Linked DNA regions of Homo sapiens: regions 1, 2, 4 and 5 are each linked to region 3. Evidence: fine-mapped expression QTL. A gene starts in region 3. Each other region holds a variant in brackets. All regions are shown on one strand. Distances are between the middles of the regions.

Region 1 (6,110 bases), 55 kb before region 3:
TTAGTAAATGATAAAAGAGGTGTATCATACCAGTAGAGACAGGAACTACTGAATAAGTGGTGTTGGGACAACTAGATATTCATCTAGAAAAAAATAAGTTGTATCTATACCTTGTAACTCATACCAGGATAAGTCCTGAGTAAATCAAATATTGAAATGTGAAAAATTAAACCACAAAGGTTCTACAAGAAAACATAGGAGAATCTTTTATAATCTGAAATGAGACCTTTCTATTCTGACTCATGATCCAAAAATCACAATAAAAGATTGACAATTCAACTACATAAAATTTTTTTTAAAAAATACAAACCAGGTGGGAGGAGGGTGCGGGATAAAAGACTACACTTTGGATACAGTGGGCACTGCTCGGGTGATGGGTGTACCCAAATCTGAGAAATCACCACTAAAGAACTTATCTGGCTGGACACGGTGGCTCACGCCTGTAATCCTAGTACTTTGGGAGGCTGAGGCAGGCGGTCACTTGAGGTCAGGAGTTAGAGAACAGCCTGGCCAATATGGTGAAACCCCATCTCTACTAAAAATACAAAAAAAAATTAGCCAGGCGTGGTGGTCCATGCCTGTAATCCCAGCTACTTAGGAAGCTGAGGCAGGAGAATTGCTTGAACTCGGGAGGCGGAGGTTGCACTGAGCCGAGATTGTACCACTGTACTCCAGCCTGGGCAACAGAGCGAGACTCCATCTCAAAAAGAAAAAAAAAAAGAATTTATCCATGCAACTAAACACCACCTGTTCCTCAAAAACTACTGGAAAAAAAAAAAAAAACCCACCAGGTGTGGCTCACCCTGTAATCCCAGCACTTTGGGAGGCCGAGGCGGGTGGATAACCTGAGGTCAGGGGTTCGAAACCAGCCTTGACCAACCTGGTGAAACCCCCTCTCTACTAAAATACAAAAATTAGCTGGACCTCGTGGCATCCGCCTGTAATCCTTGCCACTAGGGAGACTGAGGTAGGAGAATTGCTTGAAGCCAGGAGGCGGAGGTTGCGCCACTGCACTCCAGCCTGGGTGACAGAGCGAGACTCCATCTCAAAAAAAAAAAGGCAATGTGGAAGCTCTCAATGTACTGTTATTGAGAAATCTTCAAGATATATTGTTAAGTGAAGAAAAACAAGCTGCACCTAACATTCTACTTTTTGTGGAAAAGGAGAGGAATAGAAGCTCTAAGTGTATTTACTTGCATAGCATTAAAAAATTCCCTAAAGACAGATTAGAAACTAAGAACAGTTGGTACCCACATGTAGTTTATTTGAACAAAACAACAACTTAATAATGAAAGTGGGCCGGCTGTGGTGGCTTATGCCTGTAATCCCAGCACTTTGGGAGACCGAGATGGGAGGATCACTTAAGACCAGCCTGGTCAACATAGTGAGACCTTATCTCTATTTTTTAAATTTAAATAATAAAAATTTTAAAAAATAATAATAATGAAAAAGTCTTCAACATTATGCATTCTTCAATTTTCCTGTGAGCCTCCTTGTTTATTCATTTGAAAGTACAATATATTAAAATTCACCACAAAATTGCAGAAGTGGGCCGGATGCGGTAACTCACACCTGGAATCACAACACTTTGGGAGGCCGAGGCGGGCGGATTACTTGAGGCCAGGAGTTCAAGACTAGCCTGGCCAAAATGGTGAAACCCTGTCTGCTAAAAATACAAAAATTAGCTGCTGGGTGTGGTGGTAGGTGCCTGTAATCCCAGCTAATTGGGAGGCTGAGACAGAAGAATTGCTTGAACCCAGGAGGCAGAGGTTGCAATGAGCCGACATTGCGCCATTATACTCCAGACTAGGTGACAGAGCAAGACTTCATCTCAAAAAAAAAAAAAAAAAAAAAATTGTAGAAGTGTTTTCTATCCCTAGTTGAGAACTGAAGAAGAGAAATCTAACCAGAGAATTTGGTAAGCACATCTTATATGCATTTTTTAAAGACATTAATTCCAGTTATCCCTGGTACTGGGACTGCAGGTGATTTTAATTATCTCCTTTGTGTTCTGTGTTTCTCCAGGGCCACTGTTAATTTTATAATTAGCTTAAAATTTGTTCAAATAAAGTAAATATTATAAAGAGAAATTGTCTTCAGTAGTTAAGAAAAGGATGAAATTTTGAGTTTGAGGGTAACTAGGCTGGGCATAGTGGATTATGCCTGTAATCCCAGCACTTTGAGAGGCTGAGGCTGGTGGATCACTTGAGGTCAAGAGTTCGAGACCAGCCTGGCCAACATGGTGAAACCCCATCTCTACAAAAAATACAAAAATTAGCTGGGCATGGTAGCATGTGCCTGTAGTCCCAGCTACTCAGGATAATTGCCTGAACCCGGGAGGCAGAGGTTGGTGTAAGCCTAGATCATGCCACTAAACTCCAGCCTGGGGAAGAGACAGAGCAAGGCTCTGTCTAAAAAAAGAAAAGCAAGAAAGAAAGAGAGAGAGAGAGAAAGAAAGAAAGAAAGAGAGAGAGAGAGAAAGAAAGAAAAAGAAAGAAAGAAAGAAAGAAAGAAAGAGAAAGAAAGAAAGAAAAATAAACTTTGACTTTGAGGGTAATGAAAAATTGGAACAGTTTCCTAAGAAAGATAATCATAATTTCCATTTCTGTAAAACTTTATAAAATTGTATTAGACATCTTTGGTTTAAATTTTCATTTGTTAAAGGCTATGGTGGATCAGATGACCTTTTGCCACAAAGCTTTCATAGCAACCGAAGAGCAGTGTTTAGAATATTTTTCACTTAAATAATGAG[G/A]AAGAACAGGGCTGACTGCACGAGGTGGAAGAATCCAGATTGTGCAAATGGTCTTCCGTTCTGCAGCCTCTCTGCAGTTGTTGTGGGTTATTAGACTTCCGAGATCTAAATATTCTCCCAGAGTGTAGGAAACTCCTCCTAAAGTTTTACATAAAATATAATCTCATTATTTCAGAAATAGACTGGGTAAAACTAGTACCATGAGAAGAAACAAGCTTTTCAGTTAAGACCGAGTTTAATTCTGGTTTTTCTAAGAAATAAAGACTTTTATTTGTTTGATTCCAGAGAACCTCAGGGGACACCCGACTGAGACAAACTGAAAAGTTAGAAGAAAGAATTTCCAGATTCCAAAAATAATTCAACAGAATGACTCTTTTCAGAACGTTAGACAAACCTGTATTCTGTAGGTATGTTTTAGAATCTCATAGGTAATCACAAGATTATAGATGACAGGGAAGATGAAAAAGTCAAGGAAGCTATCAAAGTATTGGAAATGGGCTGGGTGTGGTGGCTCACGCCTGTAATCCCAGCACTTTGGGAAGCTGAGGTGGGCAGATCACCTGAGATCAGGAGTTCAAAACCAGCCTGGCCAACGTGGTGAAATCCCATCTCTACTAAAAATACAGAAATTAGCCAGGTGTGGTGGCATATGCCTGTAATCTCAGCTACTCGGGAGGCTGAGGCAGAAGAATCACTTGAACCCCGGAGGCAGAGGTTGCATTGAGCCAAGATCACACAACTGCACTCTAGCCTGGGCAACAGAGTGAGACTCTGTATCAAAGAAGAAAGAAAAAGCATCAGAATTGGCAAAACTGGAGGAAAAGAACAAAAAATGAAGAGAACATCAGATAGGTTACGAAGATAATCAGTTTGGGTCAATTCCCCTAAAACATGGGAGCTGCCATAGACCCCTCAAGGCAATAGTTTTCAATTGGGAACCATTTGGGTCCCCAAGAAGTTATCTGGCAACGCATGAAGACATTTTTGGTGGTGGGTGCTACTGGCTTCTAATAAGCACAGGCATACTGCTAAACATCCTATAATGCACAGGAAAACCCCTTAAAACAATCCAAAATATCAACTGTGCCAAGATTGAGAAACCCTACATTGAAGAATACTGGCCCTACAGAAACACTGAACAGACACTGTAATTCACAAAGGGAATGTTATTAATACAGCTACCTATAAAGAAATACCAAGGAAGCTGGGCGTGGTGGCTCACACCTATAATCCCAGCTTTTTGGCTGATTCAGGCGGATCACCTGAGGTCAGGAGTTCGAGACCAGCCTGATCAACATGGAGAAACCCGGTCTCTACTTAAAAATACAAAATTAGCCAGGAGTGGTGGCGGGCCCCTTTAATCCCAGCTACTCAGGAGGCTGAGGCAGGAAAGTCGCTTGAACCTGGGAGGCAGCGGTTGCGGTGAGTCGAGATCGTGCCACTGCACTCCAGCCTGGGCAACAAGAGCGAAACTCCATCTCAAAAAAAAAAAAAAAACTACCAAGGAATAGCTACCTATAAAGAAGTCTCCCCAAGTTAACTGAATACTTAAAATTTGAATACTTAATGGTTTTGTCCTTAATCCCCGTTGGACCACTTTGATAAGGGCTACTGTGTGTCTGAGTGACCAACCCATGCCAGTTTGCCCAGGACTGTCCTGGTTTTAGCACTGAAAGGACAAATGAAGCCATTCTGTCCGCCAAGAGTACAGTGATATTTGGTCATCTGGAATTTTCTCTCTTTTGAAGAGAAACCTCAGATTCCTTCATGGTTTCCTCTGTGCTTGTTCTCACACATTACCAAGCTCCTGAGGCCTGGCTCCAGCAGGGAGAGAAAGGGTCTGATCTCAGAGGTGCTCTCTGATCCAGAGGAAGCCCAGAAGAAATGGGGGCCTGCCAGTGCTGGTGGCCAGGAGGGCATTGTTAATAGCTCATCTGGTTCTGTCGCCACCCAAGGCAGGGTTCTCCTTTGGATCGGACACTGGGGAAGTGTTCCTTCCCTGCAGGCTCACATAGCTTGCTAAGAGGCATCTTTCCTCACCTCCTCCTGGGGCAGTGCCCCAGGCAATGGAATGCATTCCTTGAGAAAGGATCCCTTACATGCTTTCCCTTATCTTTCCCAGATTATGCCCTTTCTTCAGCCTATTTCTTTTTTTCTTTCTCTTTTCTGTTTTTTTTTTTTTTTTGGGGGGGGGCGGAGACAGGGTCTCCCCCTGTCACCCACAATCATATTTATGCCTGATCAATTTTTTAAAAAAATTTTTTTGTAGAGATGGGGTCTTGCTATGTCGCCCAGGCTGGTCTTGAACTCCTAGCCTGAGCAACATAGCAACAGCCACCATGCCTGGCCTCCAAGCCTATTTCTTACAAAGGTGAAACTTTCTAACTACTACCTAGCCCCTGTGATCAACTTACATAACATATATGAAAGCATTTTGGAAACTGTAAAATATCAGACAAACGTAACATACTAACATCACAATGAGAAATCATTTGTCATTTTTCTTTTTTAAAAGAGACAGGGTCTCACTCTATCGCCCAGGCTGGAGTGCAGTGGCATGATCATGGATGGCTCACTGCAGCCTCAAACTTCTGGCCTCAAGTGATCCTCTTGCCTGAGCCCCTCAGGGTGCTGGGATTACAGGTGCAAGCTCAGCTCATTTCTATTTTTGAAGTTAGCAACTGAGGGTTGTTTCACTTTCTAGATACTTTAAATTCCCGTGTGGCAGGCACTGTTGTAAACACTTTGCATGTGTTATCTCATATAATATTCACAGAAATCCTGATGATGATGATGATGATACCCATTTTATAGATGAAGAAACTGAGATAGGATGACATTAAATAACTTTCCCAGGGTCACAGAGCTGGTGGAGCTGAGTGATTAGATTCAGACAGGCTGGCTCCAAAGTCCATGCTGAATGCTACCTGTGACTCAAGCCAGGAGAAAAAAAGGAGTTGCTCAAATAAAGCGTCCCTGGCAGTAACGAATCATTAACTTTCAGCCCACTCCAAGGAATGGGTGGCCTGAGGGTCACGTGCTAAAGAGGAAACCCTGAGTGAGTCAATCATGAACACATGACTGTTCTTAGTTCCTTATAGGTTTGCTTCCTCAAATAGCCTTCCTGGAGTGCTGAGCCAAGAGATGGATTGGGACCAGTTTCAGTTCTGGGAAAGGGGCTGAACCCCATCTAGCCAATGCCTGCACCCACGCTTCAGCTCTGTGCATGCTGGTGGCCGAATCTAACACAGGCCACAGGGACTTCCTCAAACTGGGAAATGCCTGCTCATGTTGTCAAGAGTCCTCAGCAACAGCTTGTTTGCCGACTAAACAAGGCTGCCACCTCACACAGGCAGCC
Region 2 (6,110 bases), 200 kb before region 3:
ACCTCAGGTGATCTGTCCGCCTTGGCCTCCCAAAGCGCTGGGATTAGAGGAGTGAGCCACCGCACCTGGCCGATGTAACCCATCTTCAATGGTAGTCCCAAGACAAACACATGACCGTTAACTTGCTGATTTCTCCAACGGAAAATATCGAATTAGCCAATCCTTTCTATGCTGTAAGGGTTTTCCTAATTTTTTTAGAAAAAATAAATCAGTATAAAGAAAACACAATTTAAAATAAGGTCTTGCGATTGCTTTAAAGAAAGCTTTATTTACTACATACATCCTAAGAATGTACTGTAAATGGAGCAAGATCTAAATAAAAGCTTTTCAAATATAAAGCAGCTAAAGTTAACTAAACCACTAGCAATGTTTGAAAACAGAACTCTAAAACTTTTTTTTTACATTTATATAGTTTGTTCTTAACACTAAAAAAAAAAAAAGTTCACATTTCAAGTTATAAACTTACCTCAGTAGTGTACATGAAATGGTTTTGAAACAATAGGAACAGATAAGTCCCAGATAGGAGGCTCACTGATACTTAATTGGCCATGTCACCAATGTTTGTTTTTAAGGGAGTTTGGTGGTTGCCATGTTATCATTTTTTTTTATTCTTTCTTTCTTTTTCTTTCTTTCTTTCTTTCTTTCTTTCTTTCTTTCTTTCTTTCTTTCTTTCTTTCTTTCTTTTCTTTCTTTTCTTTCTTCCTCTTCTTCTTCTTTTTTGCAAATAATTTACAGGCATATGTAAAATACAGTAAGAATACTGGGTCATAGTTTCATCCAGTGAAACTCTGTGACAATCCTTCACTAGAAGGAGAGTACTTTTTTCACACAGTCAGGGGATGAGGATCTGATCCGAATTACATTTTGTCGAGTCACTCATTCCCACAGATTTGAGTTTGAATGCAGCTTGTGGGGTACATCATCAGGAACATTGCACAATTATTTTATGTCATTTAAAAGAATGATGGAAAGGAATGTTAGCGGTGCTTAAAGGCCTCAGTAGGCACTCAATAATTTTATAGAATAGTTAAATAAATATTGCTTACACATAAAAACTCATCTCATTTCAAGATGAGGGGGAAAAAGGCATTTGGGAATCTCTTAATTTAAAACAAAACAAAAGTACTTGCTAAGGGCATGATCCTCTTATGAATCCACAAGAATTCAGCCATCAACAAAAATCCCGTGAGTGGAAAATTGTATGGATCTCTAACATGACATAAAAACGCAACTGCGTTTTACTTGCTACCTTATTGCACACCTCACTTCCTTGATTGAGCCTTTAAAAAACAATTCCAAGTTGATATTTTTTTTTAAAAAGTAGATGACAATCTTAACATTTTACTGTATTTTACATTCACTCTGCTAAACAAAAGCCTTTAAACAGGCACAAAACACTGCAACAATACATTAACTTCCTAATAAAACAAACCTTTTTAATAACATTGAAATAAAATGGTTTCATTTTGCATTAAACTACATACCATGAACTTCTCCAACATAAAAGGACTAAAAACAAGCATTAGAAGATATTTACAAACTATCTTTAAACTTCTACAGGTCTCTCCTCCTCCTCCTGGATGTGCACACCCCAATCCAGTTCACCCATCAAGTGCACAGCAAAGGAAGAGAGGCCCATTTAATAAACATAATGTTTCCAACACCCTTGAGGACCATGGACAGTTTTGCAAGAAACATGGTAAGGCAACTAGAAGCATAACTTTCTGCTGAAAAGAGTCTCTGGGGGTCTTGTCTACGATAACATACATTCTTTGTCCCTACAAACTCATACTTCAAAAATGAATAAAAGCATTAGAAATGGCATTAAAGTTTTACATTGGGCAATTAAATAGCTATGCAAAGGTGTCTTATGCAACTCGATTAAAACCTTGTGCTTACTCTGCTACTGAAAATAGCACACGTAGAAGACAATACTTCCCCAACCAAACAAAAAAAAAAACAAAAAACAACGAAACAACAAACCCCAACAAAAACCCAGGAAGAAGTATAAAAGCCACCAGCTCCTCTATCAGAGCTACTTATCAGTCCTAGGCTTGCCAAACATTGCGGTGGGATTGGGAATCTGGGGAGGAGGGGACAGGGTGAGAGATGTGGGAGTGGGGGCATGTTTAAGGCTAAGGCACATGGAGAATGAGCCCCGGCTAACGGTGGCAAAGGAGAGCTTTCCAGTGTTTGGACTCAGAAGTGCGGCAAGTCTTTTCAATGTTGGCTTAAGGAGAGATCCAGTGTTTAATTTCTTTTAAAAAATAGTACCGCCATGATGATACATGGTAACACCATCAACCCTTAATGCCAGCAGAAATACAGAGGTTTTACTCATTTTAAAATTGCACTTTCCAGTATAACCTTTAAAATAATGCTTTATGTAGTATTTTTAAGCACTACTGTTTGTATCTTTAAATATTGTATATATTTTTCAAAATAGTTCCCTAGCTCCTCAAGTGTGCTTTTTTAATATATAGTTGATATATTATTGAAGGTACTACAAAATAGAAATCTCTGGAGTGCAGAAGTTAAGAAAATAACCTTCATACTGAAAATATATCCTTAAAAAAACAACAACAAAAACCTCTATACAAATGTAGTACAGCATACAAATTTTTAAAAGATGGAATGAAGGCACGAACCATTGCAAGTCTTTTGGAAATGTATGAACGTAGGCATGCTAAGTTGAAAATAGTCTTAAAAAACTAGTGAAAACTTCATGTATATAAAATAATTCAGAAATAAATCTGCTAACATTCTTCACTTTCAGGTTGCATGTGTGAATCCAACATGTTCCTTCTTCATAAATAGTCAAGCGTTCCTTCAGTGGTGTTTGTGTGGTCTGTCTTCGTGCTGGTCACCAGCCTCAGTATGTCTGGTAGACGTCGGGGATGGGGACCTGAATGGCAGCAGCAGGGAAGGCCTGAGGTATGTA[G/C]CCTGCGTATCCTCCATACATGGCGGCCGCGGCTGCCGCGTTCTTCTGTAGTGTGGCGATCGTGGCTGTAGCTGGAGCAGCAAATGGCACGTAACTGGCCCCGTAGATCCCGGCAGTAGGAATTCTCTGAACGTTTGGAGCCACCGTGTATACTGGAGTTATTGGGCGGCCCTGAGGAGAAGAGACAAAAAGGAGCCTTCCTGAACACGTGTATGTACCTATCATCCATTCATTCAACAAGCCTCTCCCAGAAGACGGGAATACAAAGACACAAAAGCAAGGGAGAGAAAGGCAGAGGGGCGGGCAAACAGCAATTATTGTAAGCAAGTGGGAGAAGAGCCACTGAAGAGGTAAGGTGGAGCTGCATCCTCAAACTCAGTGATGCCACCTTGTGAAAGTGAGAGGCCTGGAAGGCTGAGGGAAAGGTGAAATACAGTTGCCCCTCAGTATCCTCACAGGTGATTGGCTCTAGGACCTCCGTGGATACCAAAATCCTCAGATGCTCGAGTCCCTGAGAGAAAATGGCGTATTTGCATTTAACCTATGCACATCCTCCTGTATACTGTAAAAAAATTTTTTTTCATAGAGACAAGGTCTCACTATGTTGCCCAGGGCTGGTCTTGAACTCCTGGCCTCAAGCAATCCTCCTGTCTCAGCCTCCCAAAGTCTTGGGACCCATACACTTTAAAAATAATCTCTAGATCACTTATAATACCTAATATGATGCAAATGTTATGTAAATAGTTGTTATATCGTATTTTGACATTTGTATTTTTTTATTGTTGTATTGTTATTTTTTATTGTCTTTATTCAAGCCACGGTTGGTTGAATCCAGATGCAGAAACTGCGGATAAGGAGGACCTTCTCTGTACTGTATTCCGGAATCTTCTACTTACCATTCCACTCAATCAGTCTATGCCCCAGAGTGAGCTAGAGAAGGCAGCGGAGAATCTACCATCCACACAATTGATTTCACAGTAATTAAAAATCAGTGTTTTTCCTTAAACATGGCCTCTAGATACATGCCAGCTGCCTCAACTCATACTTAACTGATGGAATATGATCTGTCTCAGAGACAGAGAGAGGAACAGACTGTGTCAACTTAGAGAAACCAAATATACTGATCTCCAAAGGGACAGCTTCTTAAGCTGTGACCTTAAAAAATTGTGACCATACACAATTTTCAGCCAATGTGATGGTTTCCATCACCTCCCACCTAAGAGATGACACCATTAATGTATACAAATTGTTGTAGAAGCTTAGAGAAAGAACCAACTAATGGGGAAGTTGGAGAAAATGTCTCAGCAGCGGGGATATTCGAGCTGAGTTTTGAAGGATAAAGAGCAGTTTCCAAATGAGGAAGAAGTGGGCAAGGACAAGCTAAGTAAAGTTGCCTGAACTGTTGACGGCCACCACTGGCTCTAGAAAAGCCCCTGCTACTTCCTTCTGTCTACTTGAAAGTGCAACATAAGATGTTTTCAGAACAAACAGGAGTATGAATGGGAAGACTGTGGTTCAGTATTTCCCAAAGTGTTTGCCATGGAACTAGTTCTGTGAGATGCTTCATTGAAAAGAGATTCTGAATAAAATAAAACATTCATTTAACAAAATATTTGGTGCACCTCATGAGCCATAGAATGCCTGGTAGTAAATGCTGGTATGGTCTCCCTATATGTTAATACATCTTCAAAATAAACAATTCAGCATATGTGAAATGGTGAATTAAAATAATTATTTCTTCCTGGATTTTTATAAAGGAATTAGCTCTAATTTCTGTTACAAAATTTGCAAATCAGAGTTCCAAAATTGTGCTCAAAGGAACTTAGGAACTTCTAGCCTAAGATTACTTTTTAAAACTATAATCAAATAGTAATTATAATTTATAATAATTTTAATTTATAATTATAATGATAATTATAACAATTAATAACTCAGAGGCTGGGTGAGGTGGCTCATGCCTGTAATCCTAGCACTTTGGGAGGTTGAGGTAGGAGGATGGCTTGAGGCCAGGAGTTCGAGACCAGCCTGGGCAACATGGCGAAACCTTGTCTCTGCAAAAGATACAAAACTTAGCCAGCCATGGCGGTGCGTACTCCTGTAGTTCCAGCTACTCAAGAGGCTGAGGTGCAAGGATCACCTGAGCCTGGGAATTCAAAGCTGCAGTGAGCTGGGATCATACCACTGCACTCCAGCCTGGGCAATGGAAGTGAGACCTTGTCTCAAACAAAACAAAACAAAACAAAACAAAACAAAACAAAACAAACCCCCAAACTCAGGCACTATTCTAAGTGCCTTATTTGTATGACAGTATTGAATCATCACAGCCACCAGTAGAGTTGGTACTATGATTATATGGAGTTGTGTGGAAGTGTTAAATGACCTGCACAAAGTGACACAGCTTTTAAGCAATGCAATGTGTGACTCTGGAGCCTGCACTTTTAGCCTTACGTTAACTTGCTTCTTACAACCCTAAACAATGAGTGTCTCATCAGTGACATTTTACAACCAGGGAGAGGAGCTCCAGAACTGGAAAGACTGTGGTTCACAGCAAGACACAAGTCACCTTTTCCACATGTGTGGACGTAGGTTTAATAACCAGTGCAAAAAGGGAGAGGAAATGGCAGGGAAGGCAACATGTGAGAGAGACCTTTCCATGTGCTACAGGACGGCCCAACACCTGGGTTCAGGCTGCCCACTCCAACACCAAGTTTTGCACATAGACATGCACTGGCTTACGGCCTGGAATCAAGAGTAGGTCCCCAAACCCATGGCTTCTCTTTTCATTCATGTGATGTCCCTTTTATGATAGCATTCACCACACTATAAGGACAAAGCATGCAGAGATCAGGCATCTGATCTCCCAATCCCAATTCTACTCCCGGCCAGCAATTCTGTCTCCTTGCTGGGCCTTAATTTTCTTATCTGTAAAATGAGAATATATGGGGAAGCACTTGGTTTTGCTTTCCATGGTTTCAGTTACCCGCGGTCAACTGAAGTCTGAAAATATTAAACTGAAAATTTCAGAAATGAATAACTCATAAGTTTTAAATTGTGCACCCTTCTGAGTAGCTCCATGAAATCTCATGTCATCCCTCTCCATCCTGCCCGGGACACCAATCATCCCTTTGTCCAGGAAAACGACACTGTCTGTGCTCCATGCCCATGTCAC
Region 3 (6,110 bases):
GAAAATGAAAGTTTTCCTCCCCCACACCTTTTTCAGAGCAAAAGATACGAGAACCTTAAAAGCAGGTGGTCATTGACTTCAAGGGGACGAGATCGCCCTCCCCACTGCCTCTCCCCATACAGACGCTCACAGAATAGACGGGGAAGCAACTATGAGAGAAACAGAAGCAATCAGAACTCCAGCTCAGACGACCTCAGGAGTTTTACCAACAGGATGATTCAGGACCACACACAAAAAATGGCAGGGTGCCATTTCCCCCGAATCTCTCCCGCATAAGATGGAAACAACAACTTGAGGTGGCAACTGAGCAATTAGTTACTGATCATTTCTATGACAATTCTCTGAAGGCTCCAAAGGCCTCCTATCTTGAAACCCAGGTCATCTCTGCATTGCTATTATTGAAAATCTTTATCCAGTTGCTCTTTGAAGCCACTACTTGGAGCAGTAATGTTGGGACCAACACACACCTTTTATGATATTAAACCAGAAAATCAGCATCATCATTAAGACACAGAGACTGTTCCCAAGAGGGAAAGAAAATATATCTCCTAATCAGGCCAGTAGCTGAAACACTGCAATATAACCTGTAGCTTGGAATCACGGTGACAAGCACTTAAAGCTGCATTTAATGTCTTCATTGTAACTTCATCAAAGTTTGGCACACAAATTCTACCTTTATTCTAAGCATACCCTTTTTCTAAGTCTCATGAATCCCAAACTTAAACCCTCTTCAGAGTTTTTTTTCCCCAGAATTATGTATCTTCTGGGATTACCTAATCACAGTTTCACTTGAGCCTGGGTCCAATTTTAAGAAAATCTCCCTCCCTTCACGCTTATATCCACTCCCCTGACCTTTTCTGAAAAATCAAGAGACTTAAGATGTGGAGGCGGAAACTTACTGAAATAGCCAAATGCTTTTCTATAGCAATGAAAGCTCAGTCATTTGGGACATGATTTAATCTTGAGCTTCAGAGCAGAATTTGAAAAGCAAATTAAATCCTTTTGTAAGAAAATAATTTCATCTTAACCCAATCTTTTAAAAAATCATTACCTAGAACAGTAAACCAAATAGTCTAATATGAATGTTCTTATCATGTGAGGAAAAAAATGAGTAGTCTTTAACACTAGTTAGAGCAAGTCTATAGAACACGTGTCCAGAAGCATGTAGTTCCCTTGCTTTCTGTCTTTATTTCATCCTCAGTATCACTACTGCTTTGGGCAGAATTCTTTCAAAATTTAATTTAAAGCAGCACAGTGGGGGAATCAAAAATAAATATGTTGACTATTAAAAATATAGAGATTGGTAAAAAAAATGATGATGATGAATTCTCAATCCTACAAACTTCTGTAAACGCAAAAACCAAGAGGAAGATAATAAATCTTTAATAATTGATTGATATTCAGAATATCTTGATCTAATTAATTTAAAGCATGGCCTACCTAGCCAGGTAAAGGACGGCACAGCTAGGCTTATTTCTTCATTTGACACATACTGAAAGTTAATAATGAAGCTAGGTGCTTGGGAAATTTCTGAGACCCCATCCTTCCAGCATGCAATAATTAAGTCAAAGAGGCCAACAGTGTGTATATCAGAACAAGGTGAAGGGTAAAGCAGACCAGAAAAAAATATTAAAAACCAAACCATCTCCTCCTTTCTTTTTTTCCTTCTGTTTTCCTTTCAGACTGGGTTGATTTTAGTTCCCTCCAAGACTTCAAGTCATTGATCTAACAAAGATCATTGTTTAAATTAATAGCAACACAAACTCCCACAAAGTGATCTCTTCTTATGCTCTAGGTTGAGTACTTTGGTTTATCTAGAGGTTGTGTGTTACGCCGCTGACCACCTTTCACCTTTTAGAATCGGCACCTGCAATTCTCAAATGCTCTGGATCTAATTGCCAACCTTTTGAGCTCAAAACTTCGGCAACTCCTTCATGTTGGGTTGTCAACCCTTTGCTTTCCCTCCCCTGAGAAATTCGTATGACCTTGCCTTAAAACTTTTAAAGAATACATTTTAAAATCTATATTCCTGCTAAAGAAAACAGTGAGTCATTAAAATACCACCAGATAAAAAAAAAAGGTTTGATTTTTAGTTCAGGTCGGTAATGGCCTGTAAGTACCTTGAAGATGGTATCTTCCTATCACTTATGCCTTGGGACAGTACCCAAGAGTGGCTGAACTTTTACCTAATTAAAAAATGAGTCATTTATTTGAAAAATTCCACTTCCATTTATTTTATCTGATTTCTTAAATATCCGGTCAACTGCTAATTTGTCAGATGTCATAATTCGTCAGTCCTACCCTTTTCTACAGGCTGAATTTTTAATTTGAAACAACTACACCTCTACCGAGTGTTACTTTCAGACGTAAATTACTGCAGGAAGACCCCCCTCTGCCTTGGTTAACACTTAAATGAGATGCCTCCTGTCCAGGACGCTTCCTCAGTCTCACTGTAATAATCTGAGTCTAAAGTCACCTGTGCTTCTGGGCGGTCCAATCATGTATTTTCAAGAGTGAAAAAAAAAAATCAGTTTCTTTTATGGGAAAAGATTCATCACTACAGGAAACACGATGGGACTGACTGTATATGATTATCTGCCTTCCCAGAGGTTGACCCTTTTAAAACCGTTTTATAAACCCTTTATTTCCCACTAAATATACCAAGAGACAGAAGATGAGTGATAGCATGAGGGATAAGAGCTAAAGAGAGAAGAATAAGAAAAAAATATACACTTCAAAAATTGGGACCCAAATGTAAGATTAAGGGACAATAGTTAGAAGGACTACCAAAAACCACCTTACCTTTCCTTGTTAAGTTTTTGGAGCCGCCCACTTCAGAAATTAACACCATTCACAGCCCAGGAGCAACTTAACACAGCTAGGAAGTCACCTACAACATCTTCTCGTCCGCCTTCTTTTTAATGTAAAACCAAAATAAGGAGTGTCCAGCGACTCCCCACCGCGCCGCTTAAAGCAACAGAGCGTTTTAGGCTTAACTCCCAGGCTCTGGGAATTCCAGTGGGTCAGAATTGCTTAACCTTGGAGACTTGCAGAGAGAAAGTCTCCAGGAGGACCGCTCCCCAAACCCTGGTTTCTCTCTATCCCAAGCTGCACATTCCACAGTGGAAAGCGGGAGCGGCGACCCGAAGGCAGCGAAGTTCTCTCGGGCTCAGCTCCCGAGGCCGGGAGCGCGCGGCGGTTCCACCCGCAGAGCGGCGCCGCGTCCCGGCTGCGTGGGGCGCTGCGCACGGGAGCGCTCAGCGTCTAGTCTGCGGGCCCTTCCCGGTTCCCTCCCTCTCTCCTCCCGCCGCCCGCCCCCTGCCGAGGCCATCCGCCTCACAGTAGCAAGGTTGTCTCTCGTCTACTCCCTTCCCTTAAACTCACCAAACCAGATTTTTACTCCCAACACCGGCAACTTCCCGTAAATCTGCCCTGAAATTTTATCCTGCTGGCTGAGCCTCCCCTGGCTAAAGGCCAGTGCCACATTCCTGTTGTTTTTTAGGAGCGCAGATACCTTTGCTGAAGGTTCAAAGAAAATCGGCCTTGATGGCAGAGATTGGGGGACTTGACCAGACGGACTTCTCTCCCCGCCCCAAAAGTCACATGCCTTTCAGACACCCAGAAGTGGCACCTGCTCCACCTGGGGGCATCTGTCCGAGTCAGACGCTCGGCCCCCTTCGGGCTGCTCCGAGAAACCCAGCCAGAACCACGTTGGAGAAATTAGGAACCTGCTGCTGAATTTCAAGCCGATCGGAACCGCCCCGCTCCCCTTCTTCCCCCCATAAACAAGTCGCTGGACGAGGTGGGATCTCTGCGACCCCCGCGTGCCCGGGGAGAGCTCCCGGGGCGAGCTCCCGGGGCGTCCTTACCTGGGGCCGAGCATGGCTTGGCCGCGCGCAGGCAGGAGCGTCACGCGGACGGGGCCCTGACCTTTGCCGGGGCCTTCGCAGCAGGGCCTGGGGCCTGGGCGCTGCTCGTTCAGAAGTGGCTCATTTTAGTGCGCTCTGACCTAGAGTTACGGAGGGTTTCTAGAAAGGGAACAAAAAAACACTGCATTTAGAAACAGCAGCCAAGCCCTCGCTTCACCTTGCCTGCTCTCTGGGGAGTTGGCTCGAACCCCCACCCCATCCCAATTCCCAAGAAACCCAGATGTCCGCAATCCGCGCCCCACCCCCTCCGCCTTACCTGTTTATACAAGAGTTAAGGAGCCTCCCGCATTTCAGTGGAGCGCTAAGCCTGTTTGTAGGCGCGGAATGGGCCAACAGGAATCGAATTCTGTGACTAAACAAACTAGAAGAGGAAGCAGGCACCACCAGGAACCTAAAACAGAGTTGTGATTTCGGGTTGCAGTGTCATTCAGCTGAGGGGAAAGAAAAAAATACCGGGCTACTTTAGTGAAAGAATGTTCCAAAAATGGTTCTTTGCTGGTTGAGTTAACACATGCAAAGAGCTTAGAACGGTGCCTAGCACACAGTGTTAGCTGCCGTTATTGTTGTTGTTATTCTTCTTATTATTATTTACATTATGGCTTTTTTCTGAAGAAGAGTGTGTGGTCAGAGTTAGACATGGGCTGTAGCACCAGCATTGCCACTCACCAGCTGTGAGGCCATGAGCAAGATATTTAATCTCTCCCAGCCTCAGTTTCTGGAAGATTCTAACGATGGGATTTTTACAAACAGTTTATATTCATTGCTGACAGTCTTGAATACAATGGGAAATAAAGTCCCTGTAAAGGGTAGCCAACTGAATTTCATCTCACTTAAAAGTTACAAGATTGACAACAGAAATGGAGATAAATTTGCCTGCATTCCATGAAGCTCACTAACGGGAAGGAAATTCAGGGCCCAGCAATCACCCATCTGCTATGCTTAATTCTCATTTGTATTTTGGCACTTGACCTGGTGTCTTACCCTGGGATAGTTACTTATCCCAGACTGGGCCGGACAAATAATGACCCTTGCCGTTTGAAAAGCAGTATGAAAGAGAGGGAAATGATTTTGAAACTCCTCATAAATATTAAAAAGTGATTATTGAAGGCTAAAATGTTATCAGTGCCTCCACCCTTTATCCTCCATTTAACTTCACATTTAAAGAAAGAAATCATAATCCCTTTCCATTAGTGAGGCCCTTTCTACTTTATGGAGCACTTTCACCCTTCTTACTTTATGTGATCCTTACAAAATGATCCTATGAGCTATTTTGTCCCCATTTTGCAGATGAAGACACTGAGATCACACAGGTTAAGTGTAAGTCCAAGGTGGTGAGGCCAGGACTGGTTCTCAGTTCTAGTTAATTTTTTTTTAAGTTGAAAAATCAAACTGGATTTATTAAAATATATATAAATAACCCTCATTTTTCTTTATTTCATCAGTATTGGAAAGTTAAGTGAAAATTAATTAAAAAGTAGTAGTCCTAAGAGAGAGAAACAAAGGCTGAAGGGGTATCAAGAAAACCATAAATTTAAAAAGCAGCATTTGCCACCTTTGGGAAAAATGATTCCTTAAAACCAGCAAAGCATTCTGGAACATTTTAAATCCTTCTGATCTTTTATCTTCTCATGAGGCAAAATTTAACCCAGACAAATTCAACATTTCCTGTGTTTTAGGTTCATTCTTTGTCGATACCAGCCAGCATGTACTGTGAACAGCAGGCAGTGGGAACTCTCTTAGCTAAGTTCCCTCACCAGACCTAAGGGTTGATGCTGCCAGGCACAAACAACGGCTCCACCCCCTTAAGACAACTAAAAAACCCAGCTCCATATTAGCCTGAAATTTTCTTTTCTTTTCCAGAAGTATCTGGATTATGGCCTCAAAAAAGGCTCGCTGTCACAGACTGTCTGAGCTGAAGGATTCTAGAGGGGACATTCTCGCTGGGCACGGTGGCTCACGCCTGTAATCCCCACACTTTGGGAGGTCGAGGCAGGCAGATAACCTGAGGTCAGGAGTTCCAGATGAGCCTGGCCAACGTGGCGAAACCCCGTCTCTACTAAAAATACAAAAATTGGCTGGGCATGGTGGCAGGCACCTGTAATTCTAGCCACTCGGGAGGCTGAGGCGGGAGAATGGCTTGAACCCGGGAGGTGAAGTTTGCAGGGAGCCGAGATCGCGCCA
Region 4 (6,110 bases), 74 kb before region 3:
CCAGCCTTTACACCACCCCCCATCCTAGCTCTCTCCCTGACTGAATTCAGGTCTTTGCTCAAATGCCATCTCCTCCAAGAAGTCTTCTCTGACAACTTTCTTTTCTTTTTTCTTTTTTTTTTTGAGACGGAGTCTCACGCTGTCACCCAGGCTGGAGTGCAGTGGCACGATCTTGGCTCACTACAACCTCCGCCTCCCGGGTTCAAGTGATTCTCCTGCCTCAGCCTCCCGAGTAGCCGGGACTACAGGCACGCGCCACCACGCCCCACCTCTGATTGCTTTTTTTTTTTTTTAATATGGAATACTTCATGAATTGATTATTCTTTTAAAAGAGTTCTCCAATCACCAACTGTATACTCTTTCTTCCTCTTCCCTATCTTTATTTCTCTTCTTTGCTCATATTATTATCTGAAATTGCATTATGTATTTTTTATTTTATTTTATTTTATTTTTGAGACAGAGTCTCACTCTGTCACCCAGGCTGGAGTGCAGTGGCGTGGTCTCGGCTCACTCCAACCTCAGCCTCCCAGGTTAAAGCAATTCTCCTGCCTCAGCCTCCCAAGTAGCTGGGATTACAGGCGCATGCCACTATGCATGGCTATTTTTTGTATTTTTAGTAAAGATGGCATTTCACCATGTTGCCAGGCAGGTCTTGAACTCCTGACCTCAGGTGATCTGCCCACCTTGGTTTCCCAAAGTGCTGGGATTACAGGTGTGAGCCACTACGCCCAGCCAATTATGTATTCATTTTTATCACTTTTCACTATCTATCTGCCCCACTAAAATGTGAGCTCCATGATAAGGGACTTTTTCTTCTTCACCAAGGCACTCCCAGCTCCTAACGCAGGGTCTAGCACTAGTCAATAGTCAATATTTGAGAAATAAAATATCCCCTGGTTGGAGAGATAATAAGCCCTTAATCAAACCTGTTCCAAGACTTTTACTATCAACAAGCTAAAAAGCCCATGTCCTTTACTTGAATTCAGAGTGCTGAACAGTGGTTGGCCAGCAACCTCTACTAAGAAGTTCTTTGCGATCAGAGACATTTGAAGGTAAAATAGGGCCTTCGTCGTAAGATGAGCCAGCCAGCCCTTTTGTCCTGAAACTGAGTACGCAAGTGCAGAGAGGTTACCTGGTTTCTCCAAGCTCACATAGAAATGGTGAACATCAGGAGACGCGGGACCACTTAAAGGATGCACAGTCCCGTATTCATCTCCGCAACCCCAGGACCCAGCACGGTGCCTGGTGCAAAGAATGCACTCAGTGGGATTGCGCCCAGGGAACGAATGCTCTCTAAGGCCTCATTCAACTGAACTGTACTTCCTCTCATTACTGTCCCAATGATAACTTCCTATCCGAGAACCATTTCCAGTCACTTGAGTCATGCGTCATTTACTTCCTGTCCTCTGTCCTTTTAAAGTGCAGTTTGACAACATACCAGGCACAACAGTAACATCTGGGGGCTGCTTTGCTTCTAACGTAAGTCAAATAGCCCAGCATGGAAAATACCTAGGAAAAAAGTGGGATATGCAAAGCAAACCTCAAAAAAAAAAAAAAAAAAAGACAAAAGCTGGTGGGCTGGCCACGGTGTCACAAATGAAGTCTCCAGTGGCTTCATCATAACAAGTAAGTTTACTTTATGAAAGCTCACACTTGCATGGTGCCTTCTGTTCTCAGCACTTTATATATATATGCTCTCATTGAATTCTTTCCAAGATGTACATCTCACCTGTAAGAGGCACTACAACTCTGAAAAACCAAGTAATTTTTAGAAATAATTCAGCATTCTTTCTGATTGCTCTAGAGGAAGAAAAAAAATTTTAAAGAAATAATTTAGCAGCAAAATCCGACGCTCTAGTTCCTTCCTCCCTTCCCCCCATCTCTCTCTCCTTTCTTTCCCTCCCTCCCTCCCTTTCTTCCTTTTTTTTTTAACGAATCTCCCAGGCTTAAGGGCAGTGGCGTGATCTCGGCTTGCTGCAACCTCCACCTCCAGGGTTCAAGTGATTCTCCTGCCTCAGCTTCCTGAGTAGCTGGGACTGCAGGCACGCACCACAACACTCAGCTAATTTTTGGTTTTTTGTTTTGTTTTTGAGACGTAGTTTCCCTCTTGTTGCCCAGGCTGCAGTGCAATGGCGCGATCTCGGCTCACTGCAACCTCCGCCTCCCAGGTTCAAGCGGTTCTCCTGCCTCAGCCTTCCCAGTAGCTGGGATTACAAGCGCCCGCCACCATGCCCAGTTAATTTTTTGTATTTTTACTAGAGATGGGGTTTCACTATGTTGGCCAGGCTGGCCTCGAACTCCTGACCTCAGGCAATCCACCCGCCTCAGACTCCCAAAGGGATTACAGGCGTGAGCCACCACACCCGGCTTAATTTTTGTATTTTTAATAGAGACGGGATTTTGCCATGTTGCCCAGCTGGTCTCAAACTCCTGTCCTCAAGTAATCCGTCCATCTCAGCCTCCAAAAGTGCTGGGATTACAGGTGTGAGTCACCGCACCCAGCCCCTGACTTTCTAGTTTCTAATGAGACTCTCTACAGCCTTCGTTTCTTGCAGCATGTCTGAGTGTCCATTCGCTCTGCTGAAGAAATAGTGATGGGTGTGATCAAGGAATACTGCCTGAGATGAGTGGTATTAAGCAACACAGGGTACGTGCAACATATTATCTTTCTAAAATCTGAAATGTTCTGGCTTCTAAAACACATCTGACCCAATGGGTTTCGACAAGGATTTCTCACTTATATTAATGCAGAGAAGTAACTTGCCCACATCACACACCTAGTAACTGGCAACGCTAGGACTGCAATCAGGCAGCCTAATTCTGCAGGCCATGCCTGCGGCCGCCACATCATCCTGCCTCTCTCATGAATGATGGGAATGTGATCTGAAAGTCAGTGATTCCTCAACTGTTTTTCTGATGTGGGTCCCAGAAATAGAATTCGGAAAGATGAACAGCCAAGGTGGCCTTGTGCTGTCACCTGTGAAGGCAATTTGGACCAGCGATGACACCAGGTGAGTTAGGGCACAGAACAGCTGACTTCCCAGAAGTCATGGCCACTTTCGGGAAAATGGCATCCAGAGGCTTGGAGATCAAAACTTTTGCCTCCTTGAACATCTTCCCCAGGAGCCTCTGGGAAACACTGAAGCCAACCTGCTAAAGACCTGAAAAGATCTTCTTTTTTTTTTTTTTTTGAGACAGAGTCTGGCTCTGTCGCGCAGGCTGGAGTGCGGTGGCGTGATCTTGGCTCACTGCAACCTCTGCCTCCTGGGTTCAAGCAGTTCTCAC[G/A]CCTCAGCCTCCTGAGTAGCTGGGATTACAGGCATGCACCACCGCGTCTGGCTTATTTTTGTATTTTTAGTAGAGACGGGGTTTCACCATGTTGGCCAGACTGTTCTCCATCTCCTGACCTCAGGTGATCTGCCCGCCTCAGCCTCCCAAAGTGCTGGGATTACAGGCTGAGCCACTGCACCCAGCCTAATACATTCTTTTTAAGATTACACTATGAGGTTAAGTAATCTTCATTACTTAATGAAGATTAAGGTGCAGTAGGTCATGCCTGTAATCCCAGCACTTTGGGAGGCCAAGGTAGGAGGATCACGATCACACCACTGCACTCCAGATTGGGTGACAAAGTGAGACTCTGTCTCAAAAATAAAGTAATTGCAGTTTTTGCTATTACTTTTAATGGCAAAAACCGCAATTACTTTTGCACCAAACTAATACATTCTTTTTAAGATTATACTATGAGGGCCAGACACAGTGGCTCATGCCTATAATACTAGCACTTTGGGAGACTGAGGCGGGAGGATCACTTGAGCTCAGGAGTTCCAGACCAGCCTGGGCAATATGGCGAAATCTTGTCTCTATAAAAAATAAAAAAATTCACCGAGTATGGTGGTGCACGCCTGTAATCCCAGCTACTTGGGAGACTGAGGTGGGTGAATCACCTGAGCCCAGGATGCAAAGGTTGCAGTGAGCTGAGTTTGCGCCACGGCACTCCAGCCTGGGCAACAGAGAGAAACCTTGTCTCAAAAAAATATATATATATACATTTACATGATGAGGTGGGATGAAGAGCTGCAGGTGGGTTGTGAGCCTGAGAATGTGTGTTGGGGGGCACGTTGGGGGGAGTTGTGCACATATGAAAGTGTACGCTCATTAAAAATTGATATTTCCCTAATGTCCAGAATGCAGAGCAATTATAATTTATGCTTCAACTTTTCTGTCCCCTAAATTCATTATTGGTGGAAGTAAAAGATGCTGATCATTTGGGCCCACAGTGTGCTTACTTGGCTAAGTCCTTGGGGTTACCTCCATTCTTCAGATCTCAGTTCAAATGTCAATTCCTCAGGGAAGCCTTCCCCAATGCCCAAAGTAGACTGTCCCACCCTTTAATTCTCACCCACATCTTGGTGTACACTTTCCCTTTGAGCAGTCATCGTGGGTTCTAATTAAATACTCCTGGCTTTCTTTGTTCACTGACTGGCTGTTCCTACTAGACTGTAATTTCCTTGAGGACAGTACTATATCTATATGCTCATCTGTGTTCCCAGCATGAAGCATAGCACCTGCCACATCCTAGTAGCTCCATAAATATTTGTTGAGTTGGCTGGGCGCAGTGGCTCATGCCTGTAATCCCAGCGCTTTGGGAGTCTGAGGTGGGCGGATCAACTGAGGTCAGGAGTTCAAGACCAGCCTGGCCAACATGGTGAAACTCCGTCTCTACCAAAAATCCAAAAATTAGCTGGGCATGGTGGTGGGTGCCAGAAATCCCAGCTACTTGGGATGCTGAAGCAGGAGAATCGCTTGAACCCAGGAGGCGGAGGTTGCAGTGAGCCAAGGTCGCACCATTGCACTCCAGCCTGGGCAACAAGAGCGAAACCCCACCTTAAAAAAAAAAATTGTTGAATGAATGAATGCATGAGTATAGAATTTTACAATAAAAAATCAGAGGTTCCTCAGCAGACAAACACAAGGCCTTCTCCCACCTCTGAGTTGTGAAATTGTTATTGCCTAGGCAATCCTATTTGGCAATTTATCATATGTTGCTCAGTGACCTGTTATCTTTATAGTTGTGGATTGTTGCTTAATTTTCTTATTCTTTTTTAATGTGTACTCTGGTTAGATCTTGTCTTCCCAAGCAGATTATAAGCACATCTCAGTGTAAATTACATCGTCCTGAATTCCTCAAAGCTCCCATAGTGGAGTTTTGCACCTAATCTTTTTACACTGTTGCTTCATTTTGTGCTCAAAACAGATATTATTATTCTCATTTTTTGCAGATGGAGAAAACTGAAGCTCAGAGAAATAAGTGACTCACAGTTTGTATAAGTTGATATTTGAAATTTGGGATTTCTCCTCTTAAATTACAGATATCTCATTAACACAGGCTCAGAAATCATTTTTTCTCCCTGTGAACTTTTGGTCTGTCATTTGCTTTAACTTAAACTATATCGAATTCTGTGACTTTTAACATTTAGACATTCATTTACTCAATCATTTATTGAATGAGTAAATGTCTAAAAAATATGTACTGAGGCTGGGCATGGTGGCTCACGCCTGTAATCCCAGCACTTCAGGAGGCCGAGGCAGGTGGATCACTTAAGGTCAGGAGTTCAAGACCAGCCTGGCCAACATGGTGAAACCCTGTCTCTATTAAAACTACAAAAAAAAAAAAAAAAAAATGGGCCAGACATGGTGGCTCATGCTTGTAATCCCAGCACTTTGGGAGGCTGAGGTTGGCAAATAACCTGAGGTCAGGAGTTCAAGACTAGCCTGGCCAACATGGTGAAACCCCATCTCTACTAAAAATACAAAAATTAGCCAGGTGTGGTGGTGGACACCTGTAGTTCCAGCTAATTGGGAGGCTGAGGCAGGAGAATTGCTTGAACTCGGGAGGCAGAGGTTGTAGTGGGCCGAGATCGTGCCACAGCACTCCAGCCTGGTCGACAGAGTCAAACTCTGTCTAAAAAAAAAAAAAAAAAATTAGCCGGGCGTGGTGGCAGGCGCCTGTAATCCCAGTTACTTGGGAGACTGAGGTAGAAGAATCACTTGAACCCAGGAGGCGGAGGTAGAAGTGAGCCAAGATTTCGCCACTGCACTCCAGCCTGGGT
Region 5 (6,110 bases), 31 kb before region 3:
CCGGGTGCTGTGGCTCATGCCTGTAATCCTAGCACTTTGGGAGGCTGAGAAAGGAGGATCACTTGAGGTCAGAAGTTCAAGACCAGCCTGGCCAACATGGCGAAACCCTAAACCTTTGTATATTTAGTCTCTTCTAAAAATACAAAAATTAGCCAGGCATGGTGGCGTGTGCCTATAATCCCAGCTACTTGGGAGGCTGAGGCAGGAGAATTGCTTGAACCCGGGAGGCAGAGCTTGCAGTGAGCTGAGATCTCATCACTGTTCTCCAGGCTGGGCAACAGAGTGAAACTTCGTCCCCCCTGCCAAAAAAAAAAAAAAGAGATGTTATTTGCTCAATTACTTTTTGCTGGTCTTCATGTATCTATCTGCAGCCAGTGTGGACGCAGCCTCTCTGCACGCAGTCAGTGTTTGATAAGCTAGCATTCTAAGCCACAGAAGACAAGGAAAGCTGCAAGGGAATGCAATGTGCCTAATCAGAGACATGGGCAAAGCATGCTGCTAAGATGAGAACTTTCAGGAGCAGGGACGTGACTATCCTTGGAGCTGTTCTTTCTGTCACAGGACAAATGGAATTTGCTGGTTTTGTCGACATGAGGTGGGAAAAGGAAGAGCAAGAGGAAAGAAGCTTAAAGCAGAGGAATAAGATAACATCATTCCGTGGATAGAGGTGGGAGGAGAAAGGTGGATCATTCCTGATCTCCTGAGGCAAGAGAAAAAGACAGGAGAATTCTTAGGTTTAAGGGGGGGAAGAGGTCTTTTATTCACTTCCTGGTGCAGGCACATGTACCTATATATTGCTCTTTCTGTAGCCAGATTATTTACTCAGTGTAGTGTGTGTGCCTATGCTACACAAGAGGTTAGCAACCATTTTGTAAAGGGTCAGACGGGAAAAATTTTAGGCTTTTTGAGCCATACAGTTTGAGTGGCTACTACTCAAATCCGCCATGTTGAGCAAAACAGTCATAAATAGGTCTTTACACTGTGTTCCAATAACATTGTATTTATGGACAATGAAATTTGACTTTCATCTAATGTCCCAAGTGGCCCAAAAGATTAATCTTCTTTTAATCTTCCTCCCTAACCATCAAGAATGCAAAGCCCCACGCCTTGTGTATGAGTACACACCATATGTAGCACAGGAAAAAGGACGTCCTTGGGAAGGATAATCACTGCATTCAGGGGAGTGGCCACCCCTGAGAAGAGAGAGAGAGAATCAAGTTGAGGGGCACGAGGGGCTTCAGTTATCTCTCCAGTGGTTTATTCCTCATGTTGGTCCCAGATACAGAGGTGTTTGTTGTACCTTTCAGTAGGTCAGAAATAAAACAAATTTTTAAATATTAAGTATTTAAGTATTTAAAGTTTTAATTTATCGGCCGGGCGCGATGGCTCACGCCTGTAATCCCAGCACTTTAGGAGGCCGAGGCAGGCAGATCATGAGGTCAGGAGATTGACACCATCCTGGCTAACATGGTGAAACCCTATCTCTACTAAAAACACAAAAAATTAGCTGGCCGTGGTGGCACGCGCCTGTAGTCCCGGCTACTTGGGAGACTGAGGCAGGAGAATCACTTGAACCCAGGAGGCGGAGGTTGCAGTGAGCCGAGATCGTGCCACTGCACTCCAGCCTGGGTGACAGAGCGAGATTCCATCTCAAAAAAAAAAATAGTTTTAGTTTATCAAAATACTTCAATAAATAAATATTTATAGGCTGAGGGCAGTGGCTCACACCTGTAATCCCAACACTTTGGGAGGCTGAGGGGAGCGGATCACTTGAGATCAGGAGTGTGAGACCAGCCTGGCCAACATGGCAAAACCCCGTCTCTACTAAAAATACAAAAATTAGCCAGGCCTGTAATCCCAGCTACTCTGGAGGCTGAGGCAGGAGAATGGCTTGAACCCAGGAGGCGGAGGTTGCAGTGAGGCGAGATCACGCCACTGCACTCCAGCCTGGGTGACAGAGAAAGACTCCATCTCAAATAAATAAATGAATAAATATTTATATATTCATATAGGTATTAAATATGTATTCATTTAAATGAATACTTTTTGAAATAATTTGATAAACTGGAAATTTTAAATAAAACAAAACAATGCACATAAATGTGCCCAAGTTCATTACCATTTTTTTGCAGAAATGATTATGTTAGTAAAAGGCATTAAATAAATAAGCAAACAAACAATAGCACCTGCCCATGAAAAGGCTCTTATTTCAGTTTTTGAATCACCATGAAAAATTTTCCTGAGCATCTAGCCAGAAGGAGCAGACACTGGCAAAAATGTATTCACCTCTCTAATCTTAAGTCTCTTGATTTCATTTCTGCATTAAAGCATTTTCTGTTTTCTAAAACAAGATCTTTTGGTCAATTTAGCATACCAACTGCTAGCCTAACTCCACAAAACGGAATCTTTTTAAGGCAGGGAGCTATATTAAGTCTCCAACATTCACTTTCTGAAAATTCTTTAGTGTATTATTGCATAGCAGAGTAGTGTGACAAGGATCAAAAGATTAGAAACAATTTCAATTAACTCCTTCTACTAATATACAGAGGACTGACCACTGAATTTTGCCGCAATGTCTAATGGGAAATAAAGTGCGCACACAGGAGATTTACCATTGACCCCAATCACAGAACTTTATTTATTTATTTATTTATTTTGAGATGGGGTCTCAGTCTGTCACCCAGGCTGAAGTGCAGTTGTGTGATCTCAGCTCACTGCAACCTCCACCTACCAGGCTCAAGCCATCCTCCCACCACAGCCTCCTGAGTAGCTGGGACCACAGGTGCACACCACCATGCCCAGCTAGTCTTTGTATTGTTTTGTAGAGAGAGGGTTTTGCCATGTTGCCCAGGCTGGTCTCAAACTTTCCTGAGCTTAAGCAATCTGCCCACCTCAGGCTCCCAAAGTGCTGGGATTACAGGCATGAGCCACTGCGCCCGGCCCCAATCATAGAACTTTAAAATGATGCTTTGTCTCAAAAAAAAAGAAGAGACAAATAAATAAATAGGTGAATTTTTAAAAATAAAATGCTGCTTTAAAGAATAAAAACATCGCAAATGCTTTGCAGGAATGAAAGTCTGAAAATGATGTAATATAGTAAGAGTACAAATTAAGCTATTTTTAAAAAATCCTTTGATTTAGGGTTTCTACATTCTATATTCTATAGTGTCCATCTGTCCTCTGCTCATATGTGTTTAAGCCATAAATGAATTATCAGAAAGTCTTTTATTCTTGTAAAACCAAAAAAAAAAAAAAAAAAGAGTTGGGGAGGAGGAATCTG[T/C]CGTAATTTATTCATCATCCTTGACTTCAATAAATAATTAGTACTGGTAAACATTATTCTATAATTATTAGAAAGAGAAGTCCCTGGCCAGGCATAGTGGCTCATACCTGTAATCCCAGCACTTGAGGAGGCCAAGGTGGGCAGATCACTTGAGGTCAGGAGTTCAAGACCAGCCCGGCCAACATGATGAAGCCCCAACTCTACTAAAAGCAAATACAAAATTAGCTAGGTGTGGTGGCACACCCCTGTAATCCCAGCTACATAGGAGGTTGAGGCAAGAGAATGGCTTGAACCCAGGAGGCGGAGGTTGCAGTGGGCCGAGATCACACCACTGGACTCCAGCCTGGGCGATAGAACAAGACTCCGTCTCAAAAAAAAAAAAAAAGAAAGAGAAGTCCCTAAAGTTCAAATGCCACAAAATAGAGAAAATAAGTTCAGCAGGATTTTCAAATCCAAATAGGTACTTACACTTACCACCCCCAACCCAGGAAAATGGAAACCCATTTAGGTTGATCCTTAGTGTGGCAGATTTAAAATGTCTGTAAACTCTCTGACACTCCTCTCATTGAGAAGTGGGATCCACTCTTTCTCCACTTGAACCTGAGTGGGCTCTGTGCCTGCTTCAACCCAGAAGTGACACTCTTCCAGCTTCCAAACCCAGGCCTGGTAGCTTTGCTGTCCTATCTCTTGGGACACTCACGCTTGGGACACTTTGAAATGTAAGAAGTCCAACCACCCAGCAGGAGAGGCCTTATGGAGAGGCCCTGAAACGTTCCTGCCAAGGTGTCAGGCATGTGAGCAAAGCCATCTTAAATCATCAAGCCTTCAGATGAGAATACAGAAATGAATTAGAAAAAAAAAAAAAATCCTCAAGCCAGACTAGCCACAAGTTGAATACTACCAACTAACCCCAGGTAATGCACATGTAGCAGAATCTCCCAGCTAAGCTCTGCCCAAATCTGGTCCAAATCATGAGATAGTAGGCACTCAGTGAATATAGGGTGGTTTGTTGTACATCAAGAGATAACTGAGCCCTTGGCATCATTCTAGAAACTACACACTAATATACCCCTACACTTTAAATTTTTGGATGAGTGCCTTTCCCACGCCAAAGGAGGAATTTTTTTTTTCTTTTCCTGAGACAAGGCCTCACTCTGTTGCCCAGGCTGGAGTCCACTGGCGCCATCATAGCTCACTGCGGCCTTGACCTCCTGGGCTCAAAGTGATCCTCCCACCTCAGCCTCCTGAGCAGCTGGGACTACAGCCATAATACCTGGCTAATTTTTTTATGAATTTTTTTTTTTTTGTAGAGACAGGGTGTTGCTGTGGTGACCAGGCTGGTCTGGAATGTGTGGTCTCAAACAATCCTCCTGTCTCTGCCTCCAAAAGTGTTGGCGTTACAGGTATAAGCCACCACAACTGGCCTAAAGAAGGGATCTTAATTGATACTATTCTTGAAAGCAGAGGCCGGGCGCGGTGGCTCAAGCCTGTAATCCCAGCACTTTGGGAGGCCAAGGCGGGCGGATCACGAGGTCAGGAGATTGAGACCATGCTGGCTAACGTGGTGAAACCCCGTCTCTACTAAAAATACAAAAAATTAGCCGGGTGTGGTGGCGGGCGCCTGTAGTCCCAGCTACTCGGGAGGCTGAGGCAGGAGAATGGCGTGAACCCGGGAGGCGGAGCTTGCAGTGAGCGGAGATCGCTCCACTGCACTCCAGCCTGGGCGACAGAGCGAGGCTCCGTCTCAAAAAAAAAGAAAAGCAAGCAGAAGTAGGCTTTATAGATGAAAGTTACAAGAAAGAAGATTTCAAGGCCGGACGCAGTGGCTCATGCTCACGCCTGTAATCCCAGCACTTTGGGAGGCCAAGGCGGGCTGATCACCTGAGGTCGGGAGTTCAAGACCAGCCTGACCAACATGGAGAAACCCGTCTCTACTGAAAATACAAAATTAGCCAGGCGTGGTGCCAGGCACCTGTAATCTCAGCTACTCAGGAGGCTGAGGGAGGAGAATCGCTTGAACCCGGGAGGCGGAGTTTGCGGTAAGCCAAGATCGCGCCACTGCACTCTAGCCTAGGCAACAAGAGTGAAACTCCGTCTCAAAAAAAAAAAAAAAAAGAAAGAAGAACATAAAAAAGATCTTCCTAGTAAGCCTTTCCAGTCACAGCCTCAAGTGCCTCACGGAAATGATGATGTAACCATCACCGTAAGAATTCAAGGCCAGGACGGAAGCAATGAAGAAGCATAGCAACTGAACCCTCCAAATACCAAATCAGGAAGACCTGAATCTGGATCTGCTTTGCTATAATTAGCTGTGTGTTTTAGGGCAAGTTGCTTAGCCTTTCTGAGTCTACTTGCTCAACTGTAAAATAGAGACACTGGTAACAGCAATCTCAGAGAACTATAAATGAGTGCCTGGCCCAAGGGAAGTTCTTGGTGCACATGCTTGTCAGATCATGACTATCGCTAATGTTGGAGAGGCATTTCTACATTGGATGGTGTGTCAAACCAGAAAGCCCCGCTGGCCCTGTCCAGATAAAAACATGCTGGATCATTCCATGACCACTCATGGAAAGTTCATGTGTGCAGAAAACTACCTGAACGCAACGGAAAAGATTTCAATGACATCTCAATCAAGTCAATGGCATTCTCTTTTTGTTAGCTTGAGGTTAATTTGTACTTAAGAGCCTTAATTATTTAAGCAGAAAAGCAGCAAAAGAACAATGGATTTAAACTGGCATGCCAAAAAAGCTTCGCTTGCTTGTTTGTTGGCTTGACGTAATTAGTTACAAGGCTTCCATTGTGGATTTATCATGTATACTGTTTGCCACTC

Which allele goes with the higher level. Alleles are on the strand shown, and positions count from the first base shown. SD is a standard deviation of normalised expression in the study named. Not every link is listed here.
For the expression in monocytes after LPS of the gene that starts at base 3,271 in region 3, C is the high allele of the variant in region 5 and T is the other (moderate effect, 0.55 SD a copy in Quach 2016).

What was found.
Region 1: its variant is fine-mapped to the expression of RBM47 in whole blood (TOPMed, PIP above 0.99).
Region 2: its variant is fine-mapped to the expression of RBM47 in whole blood (TOPMed, PIP above 0.99).
Region 4: its variant is fine-mapped to the expression of RBM47 in whole blood (INTERVAL, PIP above 0.99).
Region 5: its variant is fine-mapped to the expression of RBM47 in monocytes after LPS (Quach 2016, PIP 0.95).

Annotation. Positions count from the first base shown.
Region 1 is chr4:40,571,320-40,577,429 of GRCh38, forward strand. The region is part of intron 1 of RBM47 (RNA binding motif protein 47); the gene reads right to left. Among named protein-coding and RNA genes, the nearest start is that of RBM47, 55 kb to the right of the region's middle. RefSeq lists enhancers at 5,820-5,989, 6,010-6,110. The variant G/A (reference allele first, on the strand shown) is at 2,753.
Region 2 is chr4:40,423,032-40,429,141 of GRCh38, forward strand. It overlaps RBM47 (RNA binding motif protein 47), which reads right to left. Exons shown (of 7, transcript NM_001098634.2): 7 at 249-3,112. The coding sequence ends at 2,873. RBM47-AS1 (RBM47 antisense RNA 1) reads left to right here and starts at 3,102. Exons shown (of 2, transcript NR_199039.1): 1 at 3,102-3,151; 2 at 3,757-4,551. RefSeq lists an enhancer at 2,391-3,590. The variant G/C (reference allele first, on the strand shown) is at 2,942.
Region 3 is chr4:40,626,594-40,632,703 of GRCh38, forward strand. It overlaps RBM47 (RNA binding motif protein 47), which reads right to left and starts at 3,271. Exons shown (of 7, transcript NM_001098634.2): 1 at 2,803-3,271. RefSeq lists enhancers at 2,128-3,004, 3,005-3,882, 3,065-3,134.
Region 4 is chr4:40,552,863-40,558,972 of GRCh38, forward strand. The region is part of intron 1 of RBM47 (RNA binding motif protein 47); the gene reads right to left. Among named protein-coding and RNA genes, the nearest start is that of MIR4802, 54 kb to the left of the region's middle. The variant G/A (reference allele first, on the strand shown) is at 3,286.
Region 5 is chr4:40,595,608-40,601,717 of GRCh38, forward strand. All of the region lies in intron 1 of RBM47 (RNA binding motif protein 47), which reads right to left. Among named protein-coding and RNA genes, the nearest start is that of RBM47, 31 kb to the right of the region's middle. RefSeq lists an enhancer at 1-334. The variant T/C (reference allele first, on the strand shown) is at 3,281.